Regions from separate parts of the Homo sapiens genome. Here all the other regions are linked to region 1. Evidence: fine-mapped expression QTL. A gene starts in region 1. Each other region holds a variant in brackets. All regions are shown on one strand. Distances are between the middles of the regions. Region 1 holds the start of MTG2 (mitochondrial ribosome associated GTPase 2). Region 2 holds the start of HRH3 (histamine receptor H3). Region 3 overlaps CDH4 (cadherin 4). Region 4 overlaps MTG2 (mitochondrial ribosome associated GTPase 2).

Region 1 (8,099 bases):
CTTGTGGTAGCGTGTTCATCCAGGGGCCGGATGGGCTGGCGGCAGCTCTGGTGAATTGTGACATGTTGGTTACCTGTTCGCCCAGTGCCACGTCTGCATGTGAAGCGTGCTCATTTCATGCTGGGTATGACGCCGAGCGCACACCACTGGCGTGAGACAGCGCTTGGTGGTGTGATACTTTTGGTGCTGTGTATAGTATTGTATGTCGGTACACGGAGAGGTATCCTTTTTTTGTCCCCCGCCCCCTTCTCAATGTTTCTAGCTAGCTTTGGGGGTCATTTTGTCATCAGAGCATTCTGTGCCCAGGGACAGGACAGATCTCGAGGACACCACAGTCCACCTGTTCCCGTCAACAGACGTTAGGTCTCATTTTCCTCCTCATGCAGTGTTGTAGTGTGGGTTGTCAACTTTTCTTTAACTGGCTACGCCACAGCTGGACACACATGCAGCCCCTGGAGGGCAGCCTCTTCCTGTGCCTCGATGGGGTGGGTGGGAGGGCATCTTCTGTGCGTTGGGTCAGTTTCTGTTACGTAACGAAAAGGATAAACATCTCCCACGGGAGAGGCCACAGATGGCCACTTCCAGAGCTTGCCCATTGCCTGTCTCTCGCCAATTCCGTTTATCCAAAAAGGTACATGTTTTTGTATTAAAAAGTAAACAGGGATCAGTGACTGTATTCCAAATAAATATGAATCCCTAAGGGCCGTGGACAAATTGCCTAACCCAGGGCCAGCGGTATTGCTGAAGGAAAGGGGCAGCTCTCTGGGAAGTGGGCCCTCAGAGATTACTCTGGCTTTGACCCTTGTTTAGCTGATGGTCATTTCTGGGATTGGAATATTTAATAAGCCCAATTCTAAGTTGATAGGTAATTTTAAATATTCAAACCAAATCTTCCCAACAGTTGGCAAGTTGTTTATTTTATATTATTTCTTCCAGGACCTACTTGCTCAGATCTCCAAGCAAGCATTTCTTTTCTTTTAGGGATGTCTGAAAGTCACATCCAGTTACATTACTGTGTTCTTTCTAATGAAAAGTAAAGGTTTTATATAGAGAAACTTGAGTAATTTTTACATTTCTAAGACATTAAATCCCATTTAAATTCTGTGTGAACATTAAAGACAGCACACTTGCAAAAGTATGGTCAAAGGAAAAAAATCCCACATTTCAATTAACAAGTAGCATGGACATTTGATCAACCTTTAGTTGGAATAATAATATTCATATTTGCTATGAATCCTTTTAAAAAAATCTTTGGATAAATGCTGACAGATTTCCAAGAACTACCAAGAAAATACAAGAGATATCCAATGCTTGATATATGAGGCCTAGTAATAACGATATTTCTCTTTAATTGATGTTTTGTTTTAAAAGTTAAAAGTAATTCTTGGCGTGGTGGTTCACGCCTGTAATCCCAGCACTTTGGGAGGCCGAAGCGGGCGGATCACCTGAGGTCGGGAGTTCGAGACCAGCCTGACCAACATGGAGAAACCCCGTCCCTACTAAAAATACAAAATTAGCCAGGTATGGTGGTGCATACCTGTAATCCCAGCTACTCGGGAACCTGAGGCAGGAGAATGGCTTGAACCCAGGAGACAGAGGTTGTGGTGGGGCAAGATCGCACCATTGCACCCGAGCCTAGGCAACAAGAGTGAAATTCCGTCTCAAAAAAATAAATAAATAAATAAATAAATAAGTTAAAATTAATTCTTTATCCAGAGTCGGGTGCTTTAGAATTTATAAGTCACTTATGTGTTTTGCTTGAATTAATTCTGACAGCCCCTATGAGGAAATCTGGAGGCAGGTAACAGTTCCCATTTTAGAGATGAAGAACTGAGGCACAGATTAAAGGACTTGCCTGTGTTGAATACCAGTCCTGTTCTAGGACATTCTCCCCTCTCCTAGGAGACGGATGTCACGCACAAATGGGGAGAGAAGTGTTTATTTTGTAGGCACTAAGGGTTTCTAAAACCCTTAACACTGGTAAGGGCTCAAAAATAAACGTATGTGTTCATATTCGATCACCGAAATGAGAGTTCTTAATTGCTAATTGACAAACGCGTTAGCAATTTCAGTTAGGGAGTCATCTCCCTTGATTGTGTTCTTTTCCTGTCAATTTTCATAGACCTAATTTGCAAACTCAATCGGGGACTAAAATTTCCCACTGAAAATGTTAAACATTTTAGATAACTGTGAAGATAGTTTATTTTTATTCCTTGCCAATCTGGGAATATGCCTTTTTTGTGTGTTTGTGTGTTTTTTTAAGTGCTGTATTAATAATACTTTCTGAAAGAAAAGGACACTTACCCCAAAACTTCAATCTGAAATGTCTTACATTAAGAATATCTTGAATGTTGTGTATATATTTTAAAAAGCACTTTGCAAAATAGTTTGTACATTTATTTCCTAATTTATACATGATTTTTGGTGTTAATATATTTAATGATTAATAACAGAATGTTTATTTAATGTGCTGTCCATTTTTATGTAATATTATGGGGAAAGTGATGCCAGCAGTTCCTTTTCATTATTCTATCTTCTGTCATATGAATGTTGAGCAAAGCTTAGGCCAACATGAATTGTTTGTGAAGTGTGGTTGATGGTGCTTTGTTTTTTTCTGACTACTTCTATGGAAGGCCAGTGAAGAAGCAAAGGAAGACATGAAAATTGACGCTCATTCTTCTTCCTATTGTTCCCTGACATCCAGCAAATTGTGAATTTGAAAAATGATGGCCAGTTTTCAGAAGTGCTGACAAATTCATATTGGTATGCAAAAGCTCATCACCCATTAAGGTTTGTTGTTGAATCAACAGTACTCAGCATATTAAAACAGTACATCAGAACTCATGCCAACAGTCTTTATGATGGGATTAAGGTGGACAAGATCTCCTAAGATCTGTGAATGGGATTAAGGTGGACAAGATCTCCTAAGATCTGAAAAGAAACCTTAATACGCTCATATGGTTGGAGTGTTAAGTGAACCTCTGATTTTGTCAGGGTTTTTCTACGTGTAGGCGTGAATAGGGGGCACCCCTTCAAAACTGTACAAAGAAGACGACTGTTTTCCATTTCCATTTAAACATTTTTAGCCACTTCATTTCTATTTATTGAACAGGTCAAATTTGTCTTGTTATTTGTGAGTACAGTACATTTAAAAAACATCCTTATCGGTTATTTTTTTTTCAGTCGGAGTTTGACGTATAAATTGTTTATGCTTTTGGTGTAATCTCTTAATAAACTGGTTCTTCAAAAATCATCCTATAAAGTGAGTTTTCATGAAGTTAACGGGATTTTGGTGTGATGTGTTTTGCAAATACTTATTACCGAGACCAGGTAGATCGTCACCTCGGCTCCCGGGCAGAGTTCGCGTGCGTCCGCACCGGATTCCCCGCGGCGGCAAGGCGAAGCCAGGGTAAGGGCGGTGGGGACGGCGCCCCGGGGCTGCCCTGCGGTCCCCACTGCCTGCTCTGCGTTGCCCCGTAGCCTCCTCGGGCAACGGCGGTGTCCTCGTCAGACCCGGGAGGTTCCGCAAACGCCGGAGGGGTCAGAGAAGCTGGGGGACCTTGGGCACCGGGTGGAACGGGCGGGGCGGCTGTCCTTGTGCTCGGGCAGCGAGGGCGCCGGCGAGAAGCGCGGCTGCAGCTGAGCGCTCCGCATCCCTCCTGCCGTTGCTCCTGCTTCCGCTACCAGGGACAAGGTCGCCTCTCGGTCCGTCGGCGTGTTTTCTGCACCTGCGCACTGGGCAAGCCTTGGGCTTCCGGAGCCAAAAGGCCCCGGAAGTGGTCGGCCGCTTGCGACGCTCCGGAAGTGACGTGCTTTCCCGAGCCGGTGAGTGCGGGAGCGGGGAGCGGGGAGCGTGGGCCTGGGGGGTGGTCGCGGCCCGGGCGCAAGGAGGGGCCTCGGCTTGGGCCGCGGGGTACCGGGGCGCTGGGAGCGGGAGAGGCCCCGGCCTAGGAGCTGAGAGGCCTGGAGGGCTGCCGGGCTGCGAACCCCGGCGGGACCGAGCGCTGCGGCCCTGGAGTAGCGAGCGCTCGGGCGGTGGGGAGCGGCGCCTTGCTCCCCGGTCCTGCCCCACTCTCTCCGCAGAACCGCGTTTTGGGGTCAGAAGTCTTGTCAGCCACCCCGGTGGTGCTCTGTCACGGGATGGGTGCCGTGTGTGAGTTCCGAGTCAAGTTGTTAGGAATTTGCCTTGATCCAGCGCTCTAAGTATTAAACATTTTAAAGTGATTATTGGCAGTATACAGTTGCACAAAACAACATAAATATATACACATTTGGATGATAAAACAACAATAAAGTTTTGTATTGTAAACGCGCCTCAGGGAGACGCATTTCCAGATAATTCACTGTCCGTGGCTGGCTTCTGCCCAGTGAGAGCGGGTTACCCGTTCTATTCCCATTTACGTTCTCGTAGCTGTGGATACCGAGGAACGGCGTTCACACAGACCTGTAGGTGGGAATTAGAGGGGTTGTTGGGCAGTGTCACTAGAGAAATACCTTTCTTTTGTAAAGGGGAGGACCCATTATAAAAGGGGGACGGGAAAGGAGAATTCAAATTGTTTTAAACGCAGGTTCGTCCTCAGGCAGTTCTGTTTTAGCAGAGAGAACGTAGCGAAACTTGGGCAGAAAATGGATTCCTTTGAAATTATCCTGGCCTTAGTCCCTTGGGAAGTCTGTGTAGGCGAACCTCAGTGAGAAGATTCCTGCCGTAAAATGCAGGTGTCAGCAGCATGCCAGGGAGGCCAGAGGATACTATGTGACTTTGGGCAAGTGACTGAACCTCTGTGAGTCTCAGCCTCCACTGCTTTAGATGGGCATAAAAAATGTAAAGTCAAGAATCAGGTTTCCGCTGGGCGCGGTGGCTCACGCCTGTAATCCCAGAACTTTGGGAGGCCAAGGCGGGCAGATCACGAGGTCAGGAGTTAAAGACCAGCCTGGCCAACATGGTGAAACCCCATCTCTACTAAAAATACAAAAAAGTAGCCGGGCGTGGTGGCAGGCGCCTGTAATCCCAGCTACTGGGGAGGCTGAGGCAGGAGAATCGCTTGAACCTGGGAGGTGGAGGTTGCAGTGAGCCGAGACCGCACCACTCTGCTCCAGCCTAGGCAACAGAGCGAGACTCTGTCTCAAAAACATACCCAAAAAAAAAAAATCAGGTTTCATGCTCACAGGAGGATTTGAGGAGGGTTTATAAAGGGACCGTTTGCAAAGGCAGAGTGCAGGTTAATGACAGTTGGTCCTTTAGCCTGGAACTGGTGGCAGTGGAGTTTCTACTCCTGGACTCCAAAGGATCAGGGAAGGCAGCAGTGATCGGGACAGGGAGAAGAGTCACTGGGGAGGGCTTCTTGGACTGGAGGTGTGAGCCTCAGTCTGAGTGGGCAGGGAGGTCCATGTCCCGGCCTCCTGCTCCTGCCTCCAGTCTCTGGTAGAGGGCCAGGTCCCAGTAGGTTTTCCTATGGGGCAAGCTCAGGCTCCTGACACACAGCACAGGGCAGGGTGGAAAGCTGGTCTGGAAAAGCAAATGGAAGATAGCTCGGCATGCAGTATTACCCCTCGCAGGGTATTATCGTTAGGAATACATTTAAAAGTGGATATATTGGTTGGGTGTGGTGGCTCGCGCCTGTAATCCCAGCACTTTGGGGGGCCGAGGCAGGTGGATTTCCTGAAGTCGGGAGTTCAAGACCAGCCTGGCCAACACGGTGAAACCCCGTCTCTATTAAAAATACAAAAATGAGCTGGGTGTGGTGGTGGGTGCATGTAATCCCAGGTACTCGGGAGGCTGAGGCGAGTGGATCACTTGAACCCATGAGGCGGAGGTTACAGTGAGCCAAGATCCCACCATTGCTCTCCAACCTGGGCTACAAGAGTGAAACTCTGCCTCAAATAAAAAAGAAAAAAAATGGCCAGGGCGTGGTGGCTGATGCTTGTAATCCCAGCAATTTGGGAGGCTGAGGTGGGCGGATCACGAGATCAGGAGTTCAAGACCAGCCTGGCCAACATGGTGAAACCCTGTCTCTACTAAAAATACAAAAATTAGCTGGGCGTGGTGGCATGCAGCTGTAATCCCAGCTACTCGGGAGGTTGAGGCAGGAGAATCCCTTGAACCCGGGAGGCAGAGGTTGCAGTGAGCTGAGATCATGCCACTGCACTCCAGCCTGGGCGACAGAGCGAGACTGTCTCCAAAAAAAATAAAAATAAAAAATAAAAAATAAAATATATACACATACATATATATACATGTATATGTATGTACACAAATTAGCTGAGCGTGGTGATGGGTGCCTGTAATCCCAGCTTCTTGGAACGCTGAAGCACAAGAATTGCTTGAACCCAGGAGGCGAAGGTTGCAGTGAGGTGAGATCATGCTATTGCACTCCAGCCTGGGAGTGAGACAGAGTGAGACTCTTGTCTCAAAAAAAAACCTTTCTGTGATGAGGGCAGTGTTCTAATATGTGCTGTCCCATATGTACCCACTCGTGACATGTGGCTGTGTGCACTTAGATGTTACCTCAGGGACTGAGTTTTTACATTTCAGTTAATTTTAGCCAAATGGCCACATTTGGCCAGTGGGGACTGTGCTGGACAGGTCAAGGACAGCCTTGTTGGAAGGAAAATAAAGACACCAAAGAGCAGCGTGAAAACAGTGGGATTTGTTCATCCGGCAGGGGAGAGAGCACAGCACTCAGCGGGCCTCCAAAGAGAAATTGAAAGGGCAAAAAGGAGGAAGCAAATTAGGCAAGACTCCGAGTTCAGGTCTCTGGTTGGCTTTGCAACCTTCTCTGCGGTTGATCTGCAGGTTCCATGTCACCTGCATCAGGAAGCCTGGTTTCCAGAATATCCGGGCTGGATGGTGTAACGTTCCAGCAGGCTGAGCCGTGGCTATGCTTGTGTTGATGAGCCCGAGTTGTTTTTCCCCAACCTGTTTTTATGCACCACCCCTGAGCCTTCCCATCTGATAGCTCTGGGTTAAGTCTCTTCACCTGTCTGCCCAGTTTCCGCAACTTTAAAATGAGGATGATGAAGGACTTACTTCACAGAGTTTTATGAGGACTGAATGAGTTAATCCCTGAAAAATACTTAGAACAGTATTTTGCAAGTAGTGAGGTAGAGGTCTTGAAGGTTTACTGTGAAATTATTTTCAGGTACTTTTTGTATTTGGCACTACCATAAATGGGGTTTTTTCTTAATTTTAATTTACAGTTGTTTGCGGCTGGTATTTAAGAATACAACTGATTTTTTTATATTAGCCTGATAACATGCCATCTTGCTCAGTTCCCTTCCCTGGGACTTTTTTTTTTGTTTTTTTTTTTTTTTTTTGAGATGGAGTCTTGCTCTGTCACCCAGGCTGGAGTGCGGTAACGTGATCTCGGCTCACGGCAGCGTCTGCCTCCCAGGTTCAAGCGATTCTCCTGCCTCAGCCTCCCGAGTAGCCGGGACTACAGGCACGTGCCACCACGCCTGGCTAATTTTTATATTTTTAGTAGAGATGGGGTTTCACCATGTTGGCCACGCTGGTCTTGAACTCCTGATCTCAAATGATCCGCCCACCTCGGCCTCCCAAAGTGCTGGGATTACAGGCATGAGCCACCGTGCCCAGCCTTCCCTGGGATTCTCTGTGGAACTCTGTCCTCTCTTCTGTAAACAGGGACAGTTTTACTTCTTCCTTTTTTCCCCCTTTATTTCAGTGTGTGAAAGGACATTGTTGCATAGCAGTGGTATGTGTGGAGGCCCTTTTTCTCCATCTTGGGAGGTAACCATTCAGTATTTCTTCATTAAATGTGATTAGCTGTCGGCCGGCCCTACGTAGTGCCCTTATCAGGGCGAAGATGTTCCCGTCTGTTCCCAGTTTGCTGAGATGTTTTGTTTTCCTCCTCATGAGTGGGTGTTGAGACGGTGGTACCACCTGTTGATATAGTGAAGTGCCTGGGCTGAGTTTTGACTGCTTGATGTGGCCTTGTGTTCTGAGATTACCCCTACTAGGTCTTGATGTGTGATCCTTTCTGAACTGCTGGATTCAATTGGGTAATATTTTGTTAAGAGTTATTTGCATCTATATTCATGAGGGGTATGGTCTATAATTTTATTTTTTCTTAGTGTCAGAT
Region 2 (8,099 bases), 34 kb after region 1:
TGAAGAAGGCCCAGGTGTCCCCAGTCTTGCCCCTCCCTCTGTCACTAAGAGGGGCCTTGTGTGGCTTCTGCCCAGGAAGAGGAGCCTGTCTCGGAGGGGTCACTTGAGTGTCTGGGAGGCAGTCAGAAGTCCAGGAGCCGGAAGGAGAGCAGGGATGGGGGGTAAGGAGAGGGGGGATGGGTGGGGGAAGGAGAGCAGGGATGGGGGGGTAAGGAGAGGGGGGATGGGTGGGGGAAGGAGAGCGGGGATGGGGGGAGGGAGAGTGGGGATGGGGGGTAAGGAGAGCGGGGATGGGTGGGGGAAGGAGAGCGGGGATGGGTGGGGGAAGGAGAGCGGGGATGGGGGGTAAGGAGAGCGGGGATGGGTGGGGGAAGGAGAGCGGGGATGGGGGGTAAGGAGAGTGGGGATGGGTGGGGGAAGGAGAGCGGGGATGGGGGGGGTAAGGAGAGCGGGGATGGGTGGGGGAAGGAGAGCGGGGATGGGGGAGGGAGAGCGGGGATGGGGGAAGGGAGAGCAGGGATGGGGGGTAAGGAGAGCGGGGATGGGGGGTAAGGAGAGCGGGGATGGGGGAGGGAGAGCGGGGATGGGGGAAGGGAGAGCAAGGATGGGGGGGAAGGAGAGTGGGGATGGGTGGGGGAAGGAGAGTGGGGATGGGTGGGGGAAGGAGAGCGGGGATGGGTGGGGGAAGGAGAGCGGGGATGGGGGAGGGAGAGCGGGGATGGGGGAAGGGAGAGCAGGGATGGGGGGTAAGGAGAGCGGGGATGGGGGGTAAGGAGAGCGGGGATGGGGGAAGGAGAGCGGGGATGGGGGAAGGGAGAGCAGGGATGGGGGGGAAGGAGAGCGGGGATGGGTGGGGGAAGGAGAGCGGGGATGGGGGAGGGAGAGCGGGGATGGGGGAAGGGAGAGCAGGGATGGGGGGGAAGGAGAGCGGGGATGGGTGGGGGAAGGAGAGCGGGGATGGGGGAGGGAGAGCGGGGATGGGGGAAGGGAGAGCAGGGATGGGGGGGAAGGAGAGTGGGGATGGGGGTTGGAGGGGGGTGTGGAGCTTCAGATTCTGGGAGAAGTTTCCGGGGAGTTTGGAAAACAAAAGTGCAGGTCTAGCTTCTAGCTTCAGGGCGTGAAAAAGGTCTGGAGGTGAGGCATTTTGCTGTTAGCTTCCCCTCTGCAGTGCTGAGAGCCGGCATGGCTGGGAAGCGGTGCTTTGAGGGGGAGATGCAGGTCTCCCTGCCCAGGTGGACCCTCCACCCACCCCCAGCACTGGCTGTGAGAGTAGCCAGAAAATGGCGAGATTCTCTCCCTGGGTAGGAAGGAAAGATATGAGCAGAAGCGTGCCTAGCAAGGCTGCACTGTCGGAAGTAGAGTGGGCTCAGAGACGTCAGGACCCTGGAGGCTGGAGCTGGGGGACGGGACGTTGGGGGAGGTGGCACCTGGCCCACCGAGTTTGCATCTCACCTAGGTTGGGCTTGTCTGGTTTCCAAGTGGCCTCTGAGCACCTGGGTGTGGGCCAGCATCTGCCTGGGTTCGGGCTGGTGTCTGCCTCCCTCTCCTGGGGCCCCTGGAGCAGGTGCAACGGCCTTCGGGATTAAAGGCTCACGGGCCACAGCGAAGGGTGCTACCTTCCCTCCCTCCATCTTCCTCCCAGCGTCCTCATCCTGCACCCTCAGTCCCCCCTCCAGGCCTTTGTCCAGGACAGCTCCTCTCCCAAAGATGCCTTCGCTCCAGGGCTCATCCCTTCTAGCAGCCCCTCCAGCCTAGCTCCAGCCAGCTAGCCCAATCCCTCCCCTCTGGTCACTGCAGTCCCTTTGCCACCCAGACCCTGCACACGCTGGGCATGGCCATGATCCTCCCTGGGTCCCAAGTTTTGCTGGGGTGCAACCCTGCTCCTGACCAAGAAAGATGAGGCACCTGTCCTGGGGGCAGGAAGGCTGCATGTCTGTGTTCTCAGGGCCAGAGCGGGCCCCTCCTGTGCAGGGCGTGGGCTGCATCTCCTCACCCGCCAGCCAGGTCTTGAGAAGTGCAGGGGTCTGGCGGTAGGGCACATGAAACCCTTCTTGGGATTAAACCCTGGTGTGGCAGGCTGGTCTTTCATCCCCACTGCAGTCCCCCGACTTAGAAGAAAACACAGAGCCCTCATCCTCACGCCTGCTTCTCAGTGGTTTCTGGACTCCCTGGAGTCTCTCCTCAAAGCACGAAGGCTCTGAGCACCCCACAAAGTCCTCAGGAATCAGCACCAATAAAAAAATACACTTTATTGTGACCTCACGGTTTGCAGGGCAGCGCAGCGGGCACAGGCAGAGGAGCATGCAGAGCGCGTGGCACGGGTGCACAGCACATGGCGAAGCGGCCCCTGCCCGGGCACCTCCTCTGGACCGCCCCTGCACGCCTTGGGACCCTCGGGCCCAGCCGGGCCCCCTCCTCCCAACAACCCCCAGAGGTCCTGGGTGAGCAAACAGAGTGGCCGGGGCAGGCTTGGCCACCAGGGCTGGTGTGAGCCCAGAGGCGGGGTGGGCAGAAGCAGCTGGCACAGCTCAGCCGGAAGCCTTAGCGGAGGGAGGAGGGCGTGGGAGCCCACACCTGCCAATCCAGCCCTGAGCTCCTCAGCAATTTTGTCTCTCTTGATTAAACATCCCAGGAACATCAAGTTCACAGACATGTTTTCTTCTTCATCTTTCTGAAAACACCCAGAATGGAAAAGCAGAGAACAGCTTCGAGGTTCCTAGGGCCCCTTGACACTTTTGGGGGCAGAGAGAGTTGGTGGGAAGAGGGGTGAAAGGGCCAGGCCTGAGGCTTATGCAAGAGACAGAAGGCAGCAAAGGCAGTGTCCTGGGCTTGTCCGGGGAGAGGGACGGTGTGCAGGTGTGTGCAGGGGTGTGCAGGTGTGTGCACGTGCAGAGGCAAACTGCTAGGGCAGGAAGCCTGGAGCACACCCAGGTGCTTGCTTTGGGAAGAACACCAACCAGTAACTGCGAAGGGTGGGCACCAGCAGGGGGTGGGCAGCATGTCTGGGACCTCCAGACTGTCCCTCCCGGTGGAGCCAGAATGTGGGGGGCAGGGCCGGCCACCCAGCCTCCAGTCCAGCCAGTGAGGGGCCCTCTGGCCAACCCAGGAAGGCGCCTCCATGGCAGGGTGGCTGCCGTGGCATTAAGAGAGGGCCACAGACACGGCGGGGCTCACCCCTGGGGGAACGAGCCGGGTAGGGGGCAGCAGGGCCAGATGCCCAGGAGACCTGGGCTGAGAGAGGCGTGGCTGAGGGAGGCTCTGGTGGGCCACTCACTTCCAGCAGTGCTCCAGGGAGCTGTGGGGCTGGATTTTGAGCTTCTGGGGGCAGAGCAGCTTGGTGAAGGCCCGGCGGAAGCTGTGGTGGCACAGAGGGTAGAGGACAGGGTTGACAGCCGAGTTGGCCCACAGGAGCCAGAAGGAGGTTTCGTACCAGTAGTCAGGGACGCAGTGGCCATGGCAGGCGGCCCGGATGATCATCAGCAGCGTGTATGGGGCCCAGCAGAGCCCAAAGATGCTCACGATGACGGCCAGCGACTTGGCCACTTTCCTGTCCCGAGACAGCCGAAAGCGCTGGGTGAAGCTCTGGGACACCATCTTCATGCGCTTCTCCAG[C/T]GAGGCCGAGGACGCCGACGGCTTGGAGCCCCTCTTGAGTGAGCGCGGCCTCTCAGTGCCCCTCGAGGAGCTGCCGGAGCTGGAGGTGGGTGAAGCCACGGAGCCGCCCCCACCGCCACCCCCGAGGGTCGCCTCCCCGGCCTCAGCGCCTACGGCCGCCTCACCCACCCCATACCTGTGCAGCGGCATGGCCTCCCCGTGCCCCTTCTGCCAGCAGCCCCAGCAGCCAGGCGGTGGGGGTGGTGAGGGCTGGGCCTCGGGAGGGGGCTCGGGGCCGGCTGCCTCTCGAGCCCCATCCAGCCGGAGGCGGGTGCGCCTCTGGATGTTCAGGTAGATGCTGAGGTTAAAGAAGGTGACGCTGAGGAAGGGCGTAAAGAACTCCAGGGTGGAAGCCGTGATGAGGAAGTACCAGTTGTAGAAGAACTCGGCATAGCAGTGGCCCTCGGGGATGGAGCTGCCCCCGGACAGGTACTCCCAGCTCAGGATGGCTGGTCCGTACAGCAGGAAGGCCAGCACCCACACCAGCAGCATCTTCCGCACTGCCCGCCGCGTGTCACCCTGCTGGGCCCGGTATGAGACCTGCAGAAGGGCAGGCTGGTCAGGGGCGGGGCGGAAGGAATATTGGGCTGGGTGCGCCCCCGTAGCCTGTGGGCCCCTATGTGGGCCCTTCCCTCAGCAGCAATGCTCCTCCTTTCCCCTCCTGTCCTCCCTCCCTCCCTCTTTCCCCTCCCTTCCTCTAACCCTCCCCACTGGGGTCCCGGACTGGTGCCCTGCCACACTCAGTGAGAGCCTCAGAAGCTCCCTGGGACCAACCTGAACCCTCACTCTCTGCTAGGCTGCCTGTTTACCACCCCCTACCAGCTGTGAGCTCCCTGGGGGTCCTGTCCTTGGCCCCTGCACCCTTGGGACCAGACTCAGCATCAGCCCCAGACCACGTGCACACACAGCTGTTTCTGACATGATGCATCCTGATCCTGCAAAGGCCCGAGCCATCTGCAGAGGTTGGGGTGGGAGGTCCAGCCCCACTCCTGCACAGGTGCTCGCACCCCTGGGAGCTGGAGGTGCAGGGGTGAAGCCACAAGTTGGCCCACTGCTGGGAGACATCCCCCGCCCCGCCACAGAACAAAGCATCCCAGATCGACATCAGGGCCTCTTGGGAAGAAGAGGGAGAGAGGGCAGGGCCCTCCTCAGGGCAGAGAGCAACCAGCTGGTGGGGGCAGGGGGCAGGAGGGCCAAGGGATCCCACTGAGGGGTCTCAGGTAGGACAGCTCGAGGAGGAGGACCTGAGAGCCCCTGCCACCCTCCCCCACCAGCCTGATGGCGTTTACCTTGGTGACGGTGGGAGCAATGTTCACAGCTATTGCTAATGAGAGGTGGGCAGAGCACCCCCATGCCAGGCTCTCTGCTCGGCCGCTTTACCCTTCGTGGCAGCTCTCCTTGTGCCCCATGCCTGGTGGCTCCAGGAAAGGAGGGAGAGACCACAGGGGGATGGGCTCAAGAGGAACCCAAAGCCATGCTCTTTGCACCCTGTCTCTTAGCCTTTCTAGGCTAGAACCAAACAACCTGCCCTCAGTCCTGCAGAGGCCCTCATAAAGCCCTGGGGACGTGAGCTGCCAAGGAGATGAGAAGGGGAAGGTGTGACTTCAGCAGCGGCTCCCTGGGCTGCATGGCCCCGATGCGGGAGCCTGGGTGGGGCAGGGTCCCTGACTCAGGTGGCCGCTCCCACAAAGGGAAATCTGCGGAGCCAGGATCTGCCGCCTGCCTTCCCGGGGCCTGTGTGTGTGTGCACGCTGCACACACGCATGTGGGAGGGATGTCACCCAGGGCGTCTGGCCCCAGATCCTCCCTTAACTCCGGGGACTGTGGACCTGCCCCAGGGCGGGGGCTGCAGCGACAGCCCTGCCTTCAGGACCATCTGCATCCAGATTCCCCGTCTCCTGCCTGGGCCAGGTCAGTCTGGCTGCAGCCATGGCCCCGAGTGGGCAGCTGGCCGTCGAGTGGCCCATGTGTCAGCAGCAAAGCCAGTGGGACCAAGCCCACTTCTGCCCACAACTCAGAAGTGGCCGTCCCCACCCAGGTGCCTCCCATGGGCGTCCCGACTGTCCCTGCGGAGTGAACAGGAGCTCCGCAGCCCAGGACTCACCGCTCGGGTGACCGACAGGAAGCGGTCGTAGCTGATGAGCACGATGTTGAAGGCAGAGGAGGTGCACAGCAGGTAGTCCACTACCAGCCACAGCTTGCAGAGGCCCCGGCCGAAGGTCCAGCGGCCTGTCAGCACGTAGGGTACATACAGTGGGATGCAGAAGGCGCCTGTGGGGAGTAGGGCCACAGTGGGACCATGCAGCCAGGGGCCAGGGGACAGACGGACCTAAGCGCAGACACCGGCGGGACCTGGGGTCACATGGTGGCTGCTTTTCTGGAACTAGCCATCCTCATCTTACCACCCCTCCACCTGGTGTCAGCCACAAACTCTGCCCTGCCGCCAGCCTTCACCCCCACATAGCTCCCAGCACTATCTGTGTCCCCTGGGCCTGGGGGCAGGAGGGATGATCCAGGCATGGGGAACTCTGGCCACCACAAGACCCCCGAGAGCCTGGAGTCGGGATTCCCTGGACTTCTGTCCAGCCCTCCCAGCCCTCAAAGGAGGAAAGAAGACAATTTCCTTCTCCCCTCCCCCGCTGGACTCCAGCCCCTACCCTGGCGCTGGACAACCCTCGGTCTCAGCTTAGACAAGGAGAAAGCCTTTCTCCTGGCTGAAAGGGCACTTGGTTGCAGCCGCCAGCCGCCAGCCGCTACTACTACTGCCAAGCGGGCTTGGAGCGTCTGGGAGACGCACCTCACAGCCCCAACAGGTGTCTGGCGCTCCAGCCCCCTCCGCGTGCCCCGCCCCCCAGCCGGCAGCAGAGCCTGGACACGTGAGAGCACGCTCCTCCGAGCGTCTCCCCCAACCCCCACCTTCCCCACCGTCCCTTCCCCCAACACAGCTCTAAAAATCCCCCTTCCATGTCCCCTCCCCCAGACCTTCTCTAAACCGCCCCACTGCGCCCTCCGCGCGTCCTAAGTCCGCAGCAGCCTTTGTTTGGCTACAGCGCAGGAGCCAGAGCTGCACCCGCTGCCTTTGCGCCTTGCGCCTCGCCCAGTGCCCGTGTCCCTTCCCGGGGACATCTCTCCCCAGCCCCTGTCCCGAGGCCTGAGTGGCAAGGAACTTCGCCTGTGCCCCCCACCCCATGGGCTCCGGACGCCCCCTTCCCAGGCCGGGTCCCCTGGTGGGGCGTGTGCCTGCGGGAGCCACCCAGGTCCGTGTTCCAGTCCCCGCTGGCCCGGCCACGCTGGGCGCCCCTGGGTCCCCAGCGGCCAGGGGCTGGGGATTTACCGACGAGGAAGTCGGAGATGGCGAGGTTGAGCAGGAAGAAGTTGTTCTGGGTGCGGAGGCTCGAGTCGGCCACGAAGGCGAGCATGACCAGCGCGTTGCCCAGCACCGTGGCCACGATGAGCAGCGCCATGAGCGCGGCCAGCACCGCGGTCCAGGCTGCCGAGAAGCCGCGCGCCCCGCCCGCCGCCGCCGCCTCGCCCGCCAGCGCCCCCGAAGCGTTCAGCGGCCCGTCGGGCGGCGCGCGCTCCATGGCCCCGCAGGCTCACGCGGCTCCGGGACGCGGGGCAGGGCGCCGGCCGAGAGCTGGGCGGCCGGGAGGGGCCCCGGCCCGGGAGCCTCGTCTTTGCGGGCCCTTGGCCGGGTCGGGTTCCCCTGGGGGCGCCCAGCGCATGGTCCGCGGGGCCGGGGCCGGGGCCAGAGCAGGCGGTGCCGAGGGGGCCGGGGCCGGATCCGAGCCCAGTGGGGCCGGCAGCGCGGCTGCTGCAGCGGGAGAGGAGCCGGAGCCTGAGCCGCTGCCGGTGCGACCGTGCAGCCGGAGCGCAACGCGCAGCCGAGTGCGCCCCGCGCCCAGCCCACCGCCCCGCGCGCCCCGCGCAGCGCCCCCGCCATTGGCTGCCGCCCTCGCCCCGCCCCCTCCCCGCCCCCGCCCCGCCCGGCGCCGGCAGCACCACGGACAGCGCCGCGTGCCCGCCAGGCTGCCTGGAGCCCAGCCCCTGCGCTCACAGCAGCTGGCTGGGAGCCCGGCCGGGGCTTGACCGGGTCTGGGGGCTCGCCTGCGGTCAGTCAGCCCGCGCACTCGGAGCCGGGGTCTGGGTTGCTCGGCCTTTCCCGTGCCCTCGGCCCTGGTGACCCCTGCCCGGTCATCATGGAGAGCCCTGGCGCCTGTGGGGACCCGGGGTGGGGGTGGGGGAAACGCCTGCACCCGCGCTCCGGGGACTTGCCCTGCGGGGCATTTCCTCGGTGCATGTTTTGGGAATGTGGGTCTCCGGGGCAAGGAACGTCTGGAGGAGAAGGGATGGGGAGGAGGGGGTCTTGGAAAGCCGGTGCCCAGACCAGGGGTCCGCTCCACCTCCCGTTTGCACGGACCCTGGGTGCCAGCCTCCGTGTGGACAGG
Region 3 (8,099 bases), 860 kb before region 1:
TTTTCATTATCATTTTTTGTTTAAGACATGGTCTTGCTCTGTCACCCATGCTGGAGTGCAGTGGTGCGATCATAGCTCACTACAGCCTCAAACTCATGGTCTCAAGCAATCTTTCCACATAAGCCTCCTGAGTAGCTAGGACTACAGGTGTACACCACCATGTCCAGCTAATTTTTTGTTTTTTGTATTTTTTGTAGAGATGGGGTCCCACCATGTTGCCCAGGCTACTTTCAAACTCCTGAGCTCAAGTGATCTGCCCCTGGGTGGAGGACTTCCAAGGGAACAGGCGATTTCCACAGGGCCCTGGAAGCTGGGTTTCTGATGCAGGCACTGAGGGGCTCTCCAGGGGGAGGAAGGATTTGGCAGCTTCCCTTTGAAGACAGGACTCAGTTTTCCTAATTCACGTCCTCCTCTTCCTCCTGGGTGCTGTTGGCAAGTTCCTTTGGGTTAGGATGGGGCAGGTTTCAGGGCAGTCTATGAAACAAGAAATGGAAGTTTACTTCCCAAACAGAAGGGCAATTTTGGATAGACTTCTTGACAGATCTGCATTTTTCAAAATCCAATCCATCGGAAGAAGTTAGGACAAGGAAAATCTAATTTTCTGGAACATCGGAGATGGAAAAGGCACTGCGGCCCGCAGATAGAGACCGCCGCGCTGACCTAAGTCGATAAGTTGAAGGCTCTAACAAGTTTGAAAAAGTCCACTTGGCCCCCTAAATCAAGTTCAGGCGGCAGAACAAATGTGTTGTTCCAACAGAGACGGAACAAACCTTTGGCTGGGAGGAAGAATAAAGTCATCAGCTCCCTCTTATCAGGTTTCTGTCTCTCTCCCTTCCCATCTGCCATCTGCTGCATCCTCGAAGCAGGGATCGCTTTGCTTGTTAAAGGGAAAGTGGTTGCTTTTCAGCGCAATTAATTTAGTAGGCCACAAATGTTGCTGACTGATGGGTGGAAGGTTTGATCAAACAGATTGGTTAATTGGTAGTGAAGAAATGCTGGCCATGTGAAAAAGGATGAAAGTGAAGTTGGACTTTGCTGTCGTTAGAGCCGCCGCCTCTGCTTTTCGGGTGAGGGGAGTTTCTCTTTCTGAGTCATCGTTGCCCAGAGCTGGGGCCTGGCCACCCTTTTTGTTTTAGCCATTTGTACAGCATGATAGTCACAGCCGAGAAGCAGGGCTGGGTGGGGAGGCGCCTGGACGTGGGTCCTCCAGCCTCCCTCAGGTGCGTGCAGCCTCTGTACCTGAACGTCTGGCAGCAGCCTTTAAAGACGTGCCTTGCAGTGGAGTGATAAGTCTTGCACGTAACCTGCTATTTCTTTTTTTTTTTTTAGTTTATTTATATACTTATTATTTTTATTACTATTTAGAAATCTGAATACCATGTTCAAATATATTTCCTGGCCAGGTGCGGTGGCTCATGCCTGTGATCCCGGCACTTTGGGAGGCCGAGGTGGGTGGATCACGAGGTGAGGAGATCAAGACCATCCTGGCTAACACGGTGAAACCCCGTCTCTACTAAAAATACAACAAATTAGCCAGCTGTGGTGGCGAGCGCCCGCAGTCCTGGCAGTGACTTGATCTTGGCTCACTGCAAGCTCCGCCTCCCGGTTTCACGCCATTCTCCTGCCTCAGCCTCCCGAATAACCTGCTATTTCTAACATGGGATAAATTAAGGCGCCTTTGCCACTGAGTCTCCAGGTGCCTGCACTGTAAATTCTATCAAATCTGTTTGCATTGAAGTGTTTATTAGCAGCCCCCACCCTCGTGACCTGATTGGATGGGGAGGTCTGTGGCCCATTGCATCTCCCAGCTCACGTGCCTGCCAAAGCCTGCATTCACCATTGCTCCAGACCAGGTTTCCTGACGCCACAGGCATGGGGGGCTGGATGAGTCTGTGGTGGGGCGTCCTGTGCACTGTATGGTGTTGAGCAGACTCCCAGGCTGGCACCCACTGGAGGCTGGTAGCACCCCTCCCCTAGGTGCCACAACCAAAAATGCCTCTAGATGTTGCCCAGTGTCCCCTGGGAGCAGGGACCCCCTTTCCACCATGCCCGAGACCCCCACGGTTCTAGACAAAGGGCACTTCTGGGAAGCGTTTTTTCCGTGTGAATTTGTGGGTGTCCAGCCAGCCAGCAAGGGTGAATTTGCACGAGTTTCCTCAAGGGACATGTCAGAGTGGGGTAAAAGTAGAGTTAATGCCCCATGGCATTTAGGGAAAAACAGAATGATCCAGCCATTGCAACTGTGAAGTGTTGTGCACACTTATTGGAGGAAAACGCCAACTGTGTTTGTTCTTAGCAAACCTAAATGGGTAGAGGTTAAGAGACCCAGAGAGACTAAAGGGCTGGAGGGTGGTTTCCTGCTCTCCGTCCCGGCTGGAGGGACACTTTTCACCTGAAACCTGGAGGTGGGACCCATGCGCCCCCACCCTGTGCTGTTGTGGTGGCAGGATGTGTGAAAGGGGAACTCACCATCCTAATAGATGTTAAACTGCCCGGCTCCTGTTTAGACAGCAGTTTGCTTTGCGTTGACGACTCTCCCGTATGTTCCTCTCCATCTGGAGTGAAGTTTCCCAACAGCCCCGGCTTTGCAGAAGACACCAGCCTGGGATTCACAGTGCTCAGCTGACCAGCAGTGAGTGCCAGCGGATGCAGCCTTGGGTTTTGTTTGATCCTGTCCAAGATTTACTGCTTTGAATGATTCAAAAACCTAAGCGTGTGACAATGATTTGAACTGACGTTCTTTTTTTTTCTCCTTTACCCCTTGCCTCATCTCTTAGGATTAACTGGGACTCTCCTAAGAAAACCTTATCCATTTGGTTTTATTATTAGATCATGAATCGGGTAGGGATTGCTGGAGGCTATGATGTGGGCATGCGCTCTAGAAGGGCACCATGGTCCAGAAGGCCTGGTTCGTGCCCAGGAGGAGCCTGGAATCAGTGATACTCAGTCAGAATACATGCTCAATGCATAGCCACTGATGAGGAAATTAGAAGCTCAGTGAGGTCAAGAAGCGTGTTGAGCTCTTTGGCTTTATGTTATTAATTACTACCACTTGTTTGGCACAGAGAGAGTAATCCCTGGATATGCACTGATTGAGTTGAAGTGGTGACTTGCCCCTTTTCCCATGTAATGTTTCTTTTCATTCGTTTATTCACAAATGCCCAGTCACCCTCTCTGTGCCTGCCACTGCACAGATGCCGGTGGTAGAGAGCTGGGCAGAGACCCCTCCTTGCCCGCAATGATGCTGCCATCGGCCTGAGCCATGGTGGGGCACCACACACTGATATGGAGATGCTGCACACCATGCATGTCACATGATGCCGTGATAAACAGATGACTTAGTTTCCACGATCTTAACAGGTGACAGCACTGAGCGCTTGCCCTGTAGCTGCCAAAGACGCTCACCTCATGGTCCTTAGCTCAGCCCTCTCTGTAGTATTACAATAAGCATAATAATATAACATATAAAAATATAACATATAACATGTTATAATAAATATTATAATATATAATAATACAATAAGCAGGTGCATTATTATCCCCATTTTACAGGTGGGGAAACTGAGGCTCAGGAAGGTGACGTGTGTAGGGCCAAAAGGACACACTGGGATTGCTAACATTTCCCAGGTCAGAGAATTCATCGATTAAAAATTCCCTGTTATGCTCCACCGGGAAGCAGGGCTAGATCGCACTGTTAAGAGTGCATCACATGTGCAGCCTCATTCATCCGTCCACCTTGTGGGCTCATCAAGGCTTCCGTATCTTGGCTTTGCTGAATAATGCTGCAATGAGCACGGGCATGCGGAGGTCTCTTTGAGATCTGATTTCAGTTCTTTTGGATAAATACCCAGAAGTGGGATTGCTGGATCATATGGTAGGTGGTTGCCTGGGGCTGGGGCAGGGGAAATGGGAAGTCACTATTCAAGGGATATAAAGTTTCAATTATACAAGATGAATAAGTTCTGGCTGGGCACAGTGGCGCATGCCTGTAATCCCAGCACTTTGGGAGGTGGAGGTGGATGGATCACTTGAGCCCAGGAGTTCAAGACCACCCTGGCCAAAACATGGTAAAACACCATCTCAATTAAAAAAAAAAAAAACAAAATTAACCAGGC[G/A]TGGTGTCAGGCACCTGTAGTCCTTAGCTACTCAGGAGGTTGAGGCGGGAGAATCACTTGAACCTGGGAGGCGAAGGATGCAGTAAGCCGAGATTATGCCACTGCACTCCAGCCTGGGTGACAGAGTAAGACTCCATCTAAAAAAAAAAAAAAATGGTGAATAGATTCTGAAGATCCACTGCAGAACATCCAGCCAATGGTATTTTGTTGAGCACTTGAAATTTGTTGAGGATAGATCTCATGTTAAATGTTCTTCCCACAATAATTTTTGCAAAATTGCTCGTATTTTTGCAGCATCTCCCAGGTGGGACTGTTCCCTCTCTGCATTTATTTGGGCCTCGGTGTTGCTGATGTTGCAGGGCCTATGGATTTCCAGAAGAGCCTGAGGGTCTCTTCCCAAGGCGTCTTATGCATGCTGACTGTGTCTTCTCCCTGCGTTCCTTGTTTCAGTTTTTGTCACGATTGTTCATTTGCTCATTCAACCAGCATCTTTGAGCATCTGCCGTGGGTCAGACCCAGTGCTAGGCACAGGGTGTCATTTTTCTAGTCCCTGGGGGCTCACAGCCTGGTGGGCAAGAGGAGCACCAACCACAAAACCATGCAGGTGTGGGTGAGACTGGAGTGTCGGTGGGGTTGGGTTGGCCTCCACAGGGAGCGGTGACCTGGTGGTCTCAGCCACTACCATGAAATGTTTTACTTCAGCCAGAGGGTCTCAACTGGGACAGTTCTGCCCCCAGAGAGCACTTGGCAATATCTGGAGACATTGATGTTTGTGAGTGGGGGATGGGGGTGCTATTTGCATCTGGGAGGTGGGAGCAGGGGTGCTGCCAAGTGCCCTACCCAGGGCTGCCTCCCAGCAGAGAACCCTTCAGCCCCAGGTGTCAGCACTGCTGAGGTCGAGGAAGCCTGGCTTTAGTGAGACCTGAAGATGAACAGGAGCCAAGCAGATGAAGAGGCAGGAAAGGGGCCTGGGCAAAGGGAGCAGCGTGCGCAGAGGTCCTGTGCTGGGAGGGAGTGTGGGGACACGGCCAGGTGGCTGGAGGGGTGGGCAGGGCTGTGGCGTGAAGACAGTATGTGGGCAGGGCGGGGTGCACAGGCTCCAGGCCTAGGCGGGAGCCAGGGGAGCTCCTCTTCCTGCCCCTGCTGTGGGGAAGTGTCCCAGGTCTCTCCTCCAGGCTGGCTCTGTCCAGCTGCTCTAGCCTTTTAAACCCCCGGGTCCTTCCCCAGGGTCCCCTGACACCGTGGGTCCTCGGTGGGGTGGCATTGACCTACCTAGTCCCGCCTGTGGTCAGCCACACCGCACATTTCCACCTCGAGAGCGCATGCGAGAGAGAGGAAGAGAGAGAAGGCTCTGTGGGTCTCATTAGTCGTTGATTGAGGTCAGAGAGCTCTGGCGTTTATTTAACTCTGCAAATTAGAACAGTTAATTTCCTGGGAAATGAATAGAGTCTTCTCATTGATCTAGGGAAGAGCGGGTTTCACCTTAGGAGGGCAGAGGGAGGAGGCGAGGCAGGTTCTGCTAATTCCAGAGGCGGGGTTACTCTTAACAAAAAACGGCTTGATTATCTTTGCTTTTTTGCTGGAAATTTTTTTTTAATTTTTGATGTCTTAAAAAATATAGCCTTGGAATGCTAATGTTGTTAAGTTTTCCTTAAAACATTTCACATTGTGTGTGTGTGTGAGAGAGAATATAAGGATTTTTTTCCACGGGTCAGTGTGTTTGGAAGACACCACGTGGCCTCATCTCCCTTGGGTACTTGGGTACCTGATGTATGTGCTGACACCTTCCATGTAGACGTGCGGTGAGCGGAGGACTTCCGGCTTCGTCAAATTCAGCCGTTGCCACTATTTGATGGCAGAGCCGCCTCCCTGGAGTAGCCTGCAGAATTGGTGCTTCTCAGCACAGGCCTGGGAGATGCTGCGTGCCACGCATGTCACATGATGCCGTGATCAACAGATGACTTAGTTTCCATGATGTTAACAGGTGACAGCACTGAGCCCTTGTCCAATAGCTGCCAAAGACGCTCACCTCATGTTCCTTAGCTCAGTCCTCTCTGCAGTCTTACAATAAGCATAACAATATAACATATAAGAATAATATATTGTAGCATATATTATAATAATAAATATTATATAATAATATAACAAGGAGCTGCATTATTATCCCCATTTTACAGGTGGGGAAACTGAGGCTCAGGAAGGTGACATTGAACATGAAACCCCATGCTTGAGGTTACGTGGTTGGTCAGAGGTCCCCCCAGGATACGAACCCCAGGATTCGGGTCCAGCAGTTCTTCCGGGTCCTTGTACTTGCTTCGGGGATGGTTATTTATTCATTCAGTGCAATGGGGTTGGTGCCGTCTGTGTGCTTTGCACTCTGCTGGCCTGTGGTTGGGAGCTAACGTTCCTCATTTGACTAACTACCCCCCATCCCCTCCAACTCCCCACATACACAGGAGAGGGGAGGCTGCTAATTCTGCACCTGAGGCTTCGCCTGGCTCTGTGGGTGCACCAGGCTCAGTCTCTCCCGCAGCAGCTGGGAGGTGCCGGCATCAGGATCCGCAGCCCACACCTGCAGCTGAACTGAGCGGAGACCTGGCTCCTGCAGTATCTGAGCCGCCTCCCCTTTCCTTCCCAGACTGGCATGAAGGGAGAAAGAAGTCAAGATTCTCTGTCTCCCTTTACAGCCCAGGATGAGTCCCTTCCTTGGTGCCTGAATCCCCTCCTGGGTCCTGGTGTGTGCAGTGGCTGTCACTGCAGCATTCGGGATCCTGGGGTGTGCTGAGGCAGCAGGAAGCTGTGCCCAGAGCAGCTTTTGTCCCAGAGCCCTTTCCAGGCAAGGCTGTTTGCCAGCCACACAATATGTTCACTTCATCCAACGCTGAGACGCAGCCACCGAGGGGTAGCATCCTGGAAGGAACAGATAGATGGCAGGGAGCGGAACACTCACAACTGGAGAGGAAAGTGACAGACTGGGGTGGGGGCCCCTGGTTCAGTTCCCAGTGGACTTGTGCAGAGGCCTTTGATCGCAGCAGTGCATTTCTTCAAGAGTGTATTGGATGCTCTTCACACAACAGGCTCTATCCCTGGTGTCCCCTTTTATGTCCCAGGCTGTCAGGAGGTCTTGTTATCTTTTACAGATAGGAACACTGAGCTCTAGAACATTCAAGGATCCTCCCTGTCATTTCACAGGTGCAGAGTTGAGACTTCCAGCCAGCATCCAAGGGCCTGAGCTTATCTGCCCAGGACGCACTGCCGGATATACCCCTCGCCTCTCCAAATTTGAGTATTAGGAATGACGGTGGCAAGAGGATAGCAAGGAGGCATGAGGATTCCCTTGCGGCACGGGGTCTTCTGAGAGTCAGCTGGCTTTCCCTAGGGGAGTGTGCACCTAGAGGACTTCTCTTCGTTAGGAGTGATTGCCACTAGCTGCAGGGCAGCCCAGTGTCCCGAGTGGGTGGCAGGTCAGCCCCTGTCCCCTCGTCTTGGCCTCTGCATGAACTCATCACACATTTGTTCATCAGCCTGCCAGGAGGGGATGTTTGGGAAAGTCTTCATCGAGTGAGTGCTTCACCTCCACCAGGCATTCATGGCTCACGTGCAGCCTGATTGGAAAGTTCTATTCAGTTGGCTGAATCCATGCACAGGAAGAAACAATACACCAAACACAAAATAATGTGTGATGCCTATAATTCTTTGGCCACCTGACGTCGGAGCCAGTGACATTCAGCTTCTGCCACCATTCTGTCATGTTACGCGGGCCTGCAACCCCTCCCCACCCCTGCTCCCTGACGGTGATAATTTACCAAGACTGGCGTCTTCGTGGGTGTTTTAGTCACCAGTTCGGCAATCAGAGCACATTCTGGATGCTTGGGTTTCTAGGTTGGGGCCACAGGGACTGTGGCTATGCAGGAACACTGAAGGGGGCTCTCCCTGGAGAGGAGGGGCCTCTCATCTTGCCGTCACCTTTAGTACATGCAAAAT
Region 4 (8,099 bases), 19 kb after region 1:
TCTCTTAGATGTTTTTTCTGGTGCTTCAGTTCACACTAACGTTTTAGAAACACTATTTGAAAAAGCCCTTTGTGCAGTCAGAAGGGTGTGTACGCAGCCCCGTGAAAGCCCTGGAGCACTGGGACCTTTTCCTTGTGCTCCGGAGCTGTTGGCAGAGGTGAGTGGGGCGGGCAGCTGCCCGGGGCACAGTCCGCTCTTGTCTTCTTTCCTTAGCGCTTGCTTCAGGAATGGGTTAAGGCCTCCTTTCCTCACTGCTGGTAGAGCTCAGCTGATGAGTGCCTGCTGTTCCCCAGGTCCCCGTGGGCACGCTGGTGAAGGAGGGAGGCAGAGTTGTGGCCGACCTGTCTTGCGTGGGAGATGAGTACATTGCCGCGCTGGGCGGGGCAGGAGGGAAAGGCAACCGCTTCTTCCTGGCCAACAACAACCGTGCCCCTGTGACCTGTACCCCTGGACAGCCAGGACAGCAGCGAGTTCTCCACCTGGAGCTCAAGACGGTGGCCCACGCCGGAATGGTAGGTGTCCCCACTGCCAACAGCATCTGCACACACTCAGCTCTAGAAAATCCACTTTTCTCAATGGGGATTTGCCAGTGGCCTGGAAGAGAACAGCTTTGCGACTCACCTTTTTCCCATCAGTACACTGCTGACTTGGTCGTGAGCATGAGCCCTTGTGACTCCCCCAGCCCTGAAATCCTCCCTCCAATCCCAGTTAGTTACAGACTCTGCGCTAACAAAGGTGCTGCCGCGGGCCGTGCCACCGTCTTCCCTCTTTCCCCCAGGTGGGATTCCCCAACGCCGGGAAGTCCTCACTGCTCCGGGCCATTTCAAACGCCAGACCCGCCGTGGCTTCCTACCCGTTCACCACCCTGAAGCCCCACGTCGGGATCGTCCACTACGAAGGCCACCTACAAATAGCAGGTAGAACTTCCAGAATTCTCCCAAAGGTTAGATTTAAATGATGTAATTCAGAAAAGTAATGATGTAACTCTTAAATTTAGCTTTCTGTTTAAAATGTAGCATTGTTGGCCAGGCGTGGTGGCTCACACCTGTAACCCCAGCACTTTGGGAGGCCGAGGCAGGCGGATCACGAGGTCAGGAGATCGACACCATCCTGGCTAACATGGTGAAACCCCGTCTCTACTAAAAATACAAAAAAATTAGCTGGGTGTGGTGGCGGGCACCTGTAGTCCCAGCTACTTGGGAGGCTGAGGATGGAGAATGGCATGAACCCAGAAGGCAAAGCTTGCAGTGAGCCGAGATCATGCCACTGCACTCCAGCCTGGGCGACAGAGCGAAACTCCATCTCAAAAAAAAAAAAAAAAAAGTAGCATTGTTTTTCCTAATGTAAACAACTTTTTTTTTTTTTTTTTTTTGAGACGGAGTCTCACTCTGTCACCCTGGCTGGAGTGCAGTGGTGCGATCTCAGCTCACTGCAACCTCCACCTCCCATATTTAAGTGATTCTCCTGCCTCAGCCTCCCAAGTAGCTGGGATTACAGGCGTGCGCCACCACGCCCAGTTAATTTTTTTGTATTTTTAGTAGAGACGGGGTTTCACCATGTTGGCCAGGCTGGTCTCGAACTCCTGATCTCAAGTGATCTGCCCCCCGCCCCACCTTGGTCTCCCAAAGTGTTGGGATTACAGGCGTGAGCTACTGCACCTGGCCCTAATTTAAACAATTTTCATCAGCCTGTTCTCTATGAAAATCAGGTTCCCACCCCATCCCCTAGGAATCTGTCAGTTACAGTTCAGAAACCTGCATTGAAATTCCAGCCGAGGACAGTATTTCTTCCCACTCTATTTGTCCCCTCTCATCTGTGGAAGCTCAGCAGCATCACAACACGTGACTTAAAAGCTTTCCTTGTGCCGTTTGAGAGAATAAAACTTTTTCCCAGAAGACAATACACCCATTAAAAATAGTAAGCCTGCTGGTAAGGTTATTTGGATGGCACTTTATATCTGCAGAGTACTCTACATGTAAATTTCTATCAGTAATCAAATGATTAGTAGAGTACAGGCAGCCATTTTCCTCTTTTTTGAATCCTATTAGAAGCAGAAAGAGAAGGTATGAAATGTACTCTACTAGATAGATCCATCGCCACGCTGGTCTCCCAAACATCTCCAAGCATTGAATTCCTCAGGTGTCAGTTGGCCCAGTGAATCACCCAGGTGCTAAATCAAATGGCTTCAGTTCAAGGCGTTCCTTGAAAGGAAAGTGTTAGAACTCAGGAAATCCGCCTTCGCAGTGGGCTCCAGGCCTTCTCTCCCAGGCTCGAGGTGGAAGGCGCTCTTGGGTGCTGGGTGTGCCAAGTGGTCACCTCGTGTGCCCCTGTCTTCCCTGCAGTGGCCGACATCCCCGGCATCATACGAGGCGCCCACCAGAACAGGGGTCTGGGGTCCGCCTTCCTCAGGCACATCGAGCGCTGCCGCTTTCTCTTGTTCGTGGTGGATCTTTCTCAGCCTGAGCCGTGGACTCAAGTTGACGATTTAAAATATGAACTGGAGATGTATGAAAAGGGCCTGTCTGCGAGGCCCCACGCAATCGTCGCAAACAAGATTGACCTCCCTGAAGCCCAAGCCAATCTGTCCCAGCTCCGGGATCACTTGGGACAGGAGGTCATCGTGCTGTCGGCGTTGACCGGCGAGAACCTGGAGCAGCTGCTGTTGCACCTGAAGGTGCTGTATGACGCCTACGCGGAGGCCGAGCTGGGCCAGGGCCGCCAGCCGCTCAGGTGGTAGCCACGCCAGAGCGGGGTCGCCTCTGGGCCTCTGTCTGAGCAAACCTGGGTGTGAATTCGGTGGTTTTGAATGCATAAAGTGCCTTGTGGACACGGGGGAGTTGTGGTGCTTCTGGGTCTCTGGGCCCCGCCTGCTGGCCTGAGATGCCCTCATGTTGGGAAGCATTCCGTGCCCCCTACCCCGCCTGCCCTCCGTATTTCCTGCACCTGTCAGCCTGCACCGACTGATGAGCCAGTTGCTCATTTGTGCTGATTAACACCCCTAATAAGGGGTTGGGGTGCCCATAACGGGGTGGCCCTGCCGCTGACTCAGGTCTCCGCCATGCACGCGTGGACTCTCGGATGAGCTCAGCAGAACCGCACAGCCAGAGCCCCAGGTCAGAAGTGCAGACCAGGGTTCTCAGCACAGTGCCCGTCGTGCTTCCATGGCTTGCTACGGAGAGAGACCTCTGGATCCACACTGGGGCTGCGTCTGGCCCGTTGTCCAGCAGCCCTGCGGTACCGCAAGCCCAGGCACCAGTGTCTCGGGGGGCCTCACTGCTGCGCAAGGGGTGGGGCCGAGGATGCAAGTCCAGGCAGAGCGGCGCAGGCAGCTGTGAGCTTTTCTCCATCAGCCGTCTGAGAAGAGCAGTGAGGCCAGCTGCTTCCTGTCCTTCAGAACACTTCTCTGTGCTCAGTGGGAGCCAGGAAGCCTCAGGCTTCACGACTGAATGCACCCAATATCCGACCTGGCTGCGTGTTTCTGGCTGGGCTGCCGTGTGCACAGCAAGTTAACTAGAGGGGCTGTGGGCCATGGAACTGTCAGCGTTATTCTCAGAAGGCGGCCGTGGCATGGGCAGGGTATAGTGAGGAGTGGAAGGAGACGTGTGCCTGGTAATATGGGGCGGAATTTCCACTCAGCTCCATTTGCTGGGGATTTAAAGAGAACCCTTGTGCTACGCCAGGCAGTTACCGAGCCGAAGGGAGATGATGGGCCTTCGCCCCTCAGTGGGATGGCAGCTGAGGGGGCCCTGCATTTGACCGTCGAGACTGCAGCAGCGCCTTTCCTGTCTGTGGTTTAAGTCTTTGCAGTCAAGTACTGATGCATCCAAGCCAGGCCCATGCCTGGTGTCTCCCTGACTGCAGAGGAGCCCCAGGGCAAGGACAGCTCAGCTGCTGGCAGCCTGCCTGGCCCATAGACATCCCCCAAGTAGTCTCAGGCCTCTGACATGTCCCTGAGGGGCCCCTAAGAAAGAAAGTGGAGGGGACACTCCAGAGGCTGTCGTGGGAGGATCATGTGAGCCTGGGAGGTCAAGGCTGCAGTGAGCCGTGATTGCACCACTGCACTCCAGCCTGAGTGACAGAGCGAGACCCTGTCTCAAAAAACAAACAAACAAACAAACAAAAACAGAACATTCTGGGCACGGTGGCTCATGCCTGTAGTCCCAGCACTTTGGGAGGCCGAGGCTGGTGGATCACAAGGTCAGGAGATTGAGACCATCCTGGCTAACACAGTGAAACCCCGTCTCTACTAAAAATACAAAAAAATTAGCCAGGCGTGGTGGCGGTCACCTGTAGTCCCAGCTACTCGGGAGGCTGAAGCAGGAGAATGGCGTGAACCTGGGAGGCGGAGCTTGCAGTGAGCCGAGATCACACCACTGCACTCCAGCCTGAGCGACAGAGCAAGACTCCATCTCAAAAAAAAAAAAAAAGTGGAGGGGACAAAGAAGCAGAGAAGGATGATCAGAAGGGGACCCCCAGCCCTTGGAGGAGAGACGGCAGCCTCAGGTGAGATGAGCCGCAAGGGTCCGGGGCCGCGTCTCTGCACGCTGGGGTGGGGCGCGCTTTGCACAGCAGGCCGGTGCCTGGGCTTTCAGGAGCAATTCCGTTTTGATCTCACATCAAATCTGCAGCTAGAACATGACAGTCCTTTTACCCGAAGCTTTATTTTAATGTCTTATAATTTCAAAGGTCCTTCTATCCTAGAAACCAGAGATGGGTTTTGCATCTATTTGCTTTTTCTTTCAGGCCGCCACAAAGGATTTTGTGGAGTCGCCCCAGGCCTGACGGCGTTAATTATCCCTGGCTTTCATCTT[G/T]ATGCTCTTGCAGGGGAGGCTCAAGATGCCTTGTGGCTCGACCCCTGCACGGAGCCCCCAGCCCAGCCTCCCCGTGGGTTGAAACCTTGATCTGGGCCTGACTGTGGCTGCTCTGGGGACATGCCCTCGTCCTTTGCTGAAGCTGAGGCTCCAGAGGGGGAGTCACTGCCACGAAGGTTGCCCAGAACTTTCCTTGCTGCAAAAAGCCCCAAGACTTCTCCCTGCCACACACACAGCTTTTGCCATCGCGTTCTAAAAGCTGACAGCTTTCTCTCCAACACTGTTCTCCCTGAGTAGGGTAAAGCTACACTTGGCTTCCCCAGTTTCCTGTTTCCTGCCTAGAAACAAATTTTTGTCAGTCTGCTTTTCAAATGGGATATATGATTCACATACCATAAAATTCACCACTTTATATAATTCAGTGGTTTTTTTGTATGTTCAGAAGGTTGTGCAACTGTCAAACTGCAAATTCCAGAACGTTTTCATCACCCCGAAAACAGACCCTGTGCCCGTTAGCGTGAACCCGCCTTCCCCCTCCCCCGGGCACCCACCCGTCTACCTTCTGTCCCCAGGGACCTGCCTTCCAGACAGATCCTGTAATTGGAGTGTACACTATGTGGCCGTCTGTGCGGGTCTTTAGTAGCCATGCCTGAGGCGGCCGACACCGCAGTCTTTAGTTACGGAAGGGACCGCGGGTGCAGGCCAACCCCCCCACAGTCAGCATGTGTGGGCTGCCTTGGACACAGGGTCTCTGTGTATCCCCAGCAGCCTCAGAACACCTGACCCAGAGACGGCGTCAGTAAGCGCTGGCAGGTGCACGGAGGATGGCGCTGGCATGAGGAGCCTTCAGGCTGCTCCTAGTTTTAAACTATTTTTACTTTTGTTTTTATTTTTTTAAGACAGAGTCTCACTCTTTCGCCCAGGCTAGAGTGCAGTGGTGCGATCTCGGCTCACTGCAACCTCTGCCTCCTGGGTTCAAGCGATTCTCCTGCCTTAGCCTCCCAAGTAGCTGGGATTACAGCCTGCACCACCACGCCTGGCTGATTTTTGTATTTTTAGTAGAGACAAGGTTTCACCATGTTGGCCAGGCTGGTCTCGAACCCCTGACCTCAGGTGATCTGCCCACTTTGGCCTCCCAAAGTGCCGGGATTACCGGCATGAGCCACTGCGCCTGGCCTGAAACTCAGTGTGTGTGTGTGTGTGTGTGTGTGTGTGTGTGTGTGTGTGTGTGTGTGTGTGTGAGAGAGAGAGAGAGAGAGAGAGAGAGAGAGAGAGAGATGGAGTCTCACTCTGTCACCCAGGCTGGAGTGCAGTGGCGCGATCTCCACTCACTGCAACCTCCGACTCCTGGGTTCAAGCAGTTCTCCTGCCGCAGCCCAGGTGGGGTGGAGTCTGGGTGCCCTGGGGCCCTGCCACCTTCCACTTGGACACGGGCGAGGAGGGGTTTGCCCTGAGCATCCCCTGTAGAAGCCCAGCTCCACAGCAGCGCTGTAGGAAAACGTAGTGTGTCCATTTGAAAATGAAGTTTTATCTATTCCTTATTAGTCTCCTGGGGCTGCTATGACAAAGTGCCACAAACCGGGTGACTTAACAGAAGTTGGCCGAGCATGGGGGCTTACACCTGTCATCTAGCGCTGTGGGAGGCCGAGGCGGCCGGATCACCTGGGGTCAGGAGTTTAGGACCAGCCTGGCCAACATGGTGAAACCCCATCTCTACTAAAAAATATGTAAAAATTAGCTAGGGGTGGTGGCCCATACCTGTAGTCCCAGCTACCCAGGAGGCTGAGGCAGGAGAATCGCTTGAACCCCTGATCACTTGAGCCAAGATTGCGCCACTGCACTCCATCCTGGGCGACACAGTGAGACTCTGTCTCAAGAAAAAAAAAAAAAAAAAACAAAAAAAACCTAAGTGGATTCTCTTGTTTGTCGGGGGTGAGGCCTCTCAAGGCCAGGGAGGTCCTTCCTGCTCCATCCTCGGCTAGCAGTGGCAAAGGCTCCCGTCCCTGCCCTGTCTTCATGTAACTTCCCCCTGTGTGTCTGTCCTCTTATCTTCTGGAAGCCAGTTGTGGGATTTGGGCCTCTCTAAACCCAGGATGGTCCCATCTTGAGATCTTTAGTTACATTTGCACAGACCCCATTTCCAATAGTGATATTCTGAGGTTCTGTGGATGTGGATTTGGGGGCACGTTGTTTGACCCCAAGCAATGTCCCTTTCCATCTTTTTTTTTGGCGGCGGTGGGGGTGGTGCAGAGTCTTGCTCTGTCATGCAGGCTGGAGTGCAGTGGCGCGATTTTGGCTCACTGCAACCTCCACCTCCCAGGTTCAAGCGATTCTCCTGCCTCAGCCTTCTGAATAGCTAGGATTACAGAAATGTACCACCATGCCCAGCTAATTTTCGTATTTTTAGTAGAGCCAGGGTTTCACCATGTTGGCCAGGCTGGTCCCGAGCTCCTGAGCTCAGGCGATTTGCCCGCCTCAGCCTCCCACAGTGCTGGGACTGCAGGTGTGAGCCTCCACTCCCAGCCTCCCTTCCCATCTTGTGGTCGTGTGTGCTTCCCGGCGCACGTGCTATACTGAGTTCAGTCTCGCGTGGGGCCTTTGCCTCCTCACCTCGCCAGCACAGCAGCTCTGCCCTCGGGTCCACCCCAGGTCCCGCCATGCCTGTCACCTCCACCCCGCTCTGGACGATGGCAGTGGCCTGCTAATGTCTCCCCTACTTGGTGCCCGGGCCCCTCAGTCTTCCCCTGTGGCTGTGCCAGGAAGCCAGGCCCCTCACTGGGAGTCCCTGGTGCCCACAGCACCAGCCCCACTGCCCCTTCCTATGTCTGAGCCATGCTGAGGCCACTCCTTGGACTGCAGGCTTTGGTGTTGCTGATCCCTGTGACCCAGTGCCCTGCCCAGACACCCCGTGAAATGCCCTCTAGTCAAAAAGCCAAAGACAGCCACACGCGCCCAGGCTCTGCACAGTTGGGCCCACCACCCTCTCGTGCACGCACTTTCCACACTTCACGTTAGCCGCCGTCGCCCCCCCGCCCTAAGCTCCTGGAGAACAGAGACCTCGTTTGTCTGTATGCAGTGCCCGGGTCGGCGCTGGCCCCGGGATGGAGGCCTGAAGGGCAGACATGCTGAGGCAACCGGAGCGTCTCATCAGTGAACACACGTGCCGGGGACCTGTCCTGGTGCCGCTAAAGAGGCTGCAGAGCCGCGGGGTGCGGCAGTGCTTGGCGGGGGCGGGGTGCAGCTCTGCGTGCATGGCGTCCACCTGGGGACCGCAGGTGTCAAGCCGGG

What was found.
Region 2: its variant is fine-mapped to the expression of MTG2 in left ventricle (GTEx, PIP above 0.99).
Region 3: its variant is fine-mapped to the expression of MTG2 in prefrontal cortex (GTEx, PIP 0.99).
Region 4: its variant is fine-mapped to the expression of MTG2 in whole blood (TOPMed, PIP above 0.99).

What each region holds. Positions count from the first base shown.
Region 1 is chr20:62,179,233-62,187,331 of GRCh38, forward strand. MTG2 (mitochondrial ribosome associated GTPase 2) reads left to right here and starts at 3,796. Exons shown (of 7, transcript NM_015666.4): 1 at 3,796-3,825. SS18L1 (SS18L1 subunit of BAF chromatin remodeling complex) reads left to right here. Exons shown (of 11, transcript NM_198935.3): 11 at 1-3,282. RefSeq lists silencers at 3,425-3,614, 3,654-3,838, 3,845-4,014.
Region 2 is chr20:62,212,736-62,220,834 of GRCh38, forward strand. HRH3 (histamine receptor H3) reads right to left here and starts at 7,543. Exons shown (of 3, transcript NM_007232.3): 1 at 6,986-7,543; 2 at 5,756-5,922; 3 at 2,225-4,191. The coding sequence starts at 7,235. The coding sequence ends at 3,271. RefSeq lists an enhancer at 1,588-2,088 and a silencer at 7,648-7,757. The variant C/T (reference allele first, on the strand shown) is at 3,613.
Region 3 is chr20:61,315,700-61,323,798 of GRCh38, forward strand. All of the region lies in intron 2 of CDH4 (cadherin 4), which reads left to right. Among named protein-coding and RNA genes, the nearest start is that of CDH4, 67 kb to the left of the region's middle. RefSeq lists an enhancer at 1,564-2,439. The variant G/A (reference allele first, on the strand shown) is at 4,116.
Region 4 is chr20:62,198,341-62,206,439 of GRCh38, forward strand. It overlaps MTG2 (mitochondrial ribosome associated GTPase 2), which reads left to right. Exons shown (of 7, transcript NM_015666.4): 5 at 294-512; 6 at 779-917; 7 at 2,343-5,228. The coding sequence ends at 2,737. Among named protein-coding and RNA genes, the nearest start is that of HRH3, 18 kb to the right of the region's middle. The variant G/T (reference allele first, on the strand shown) is at 4,812.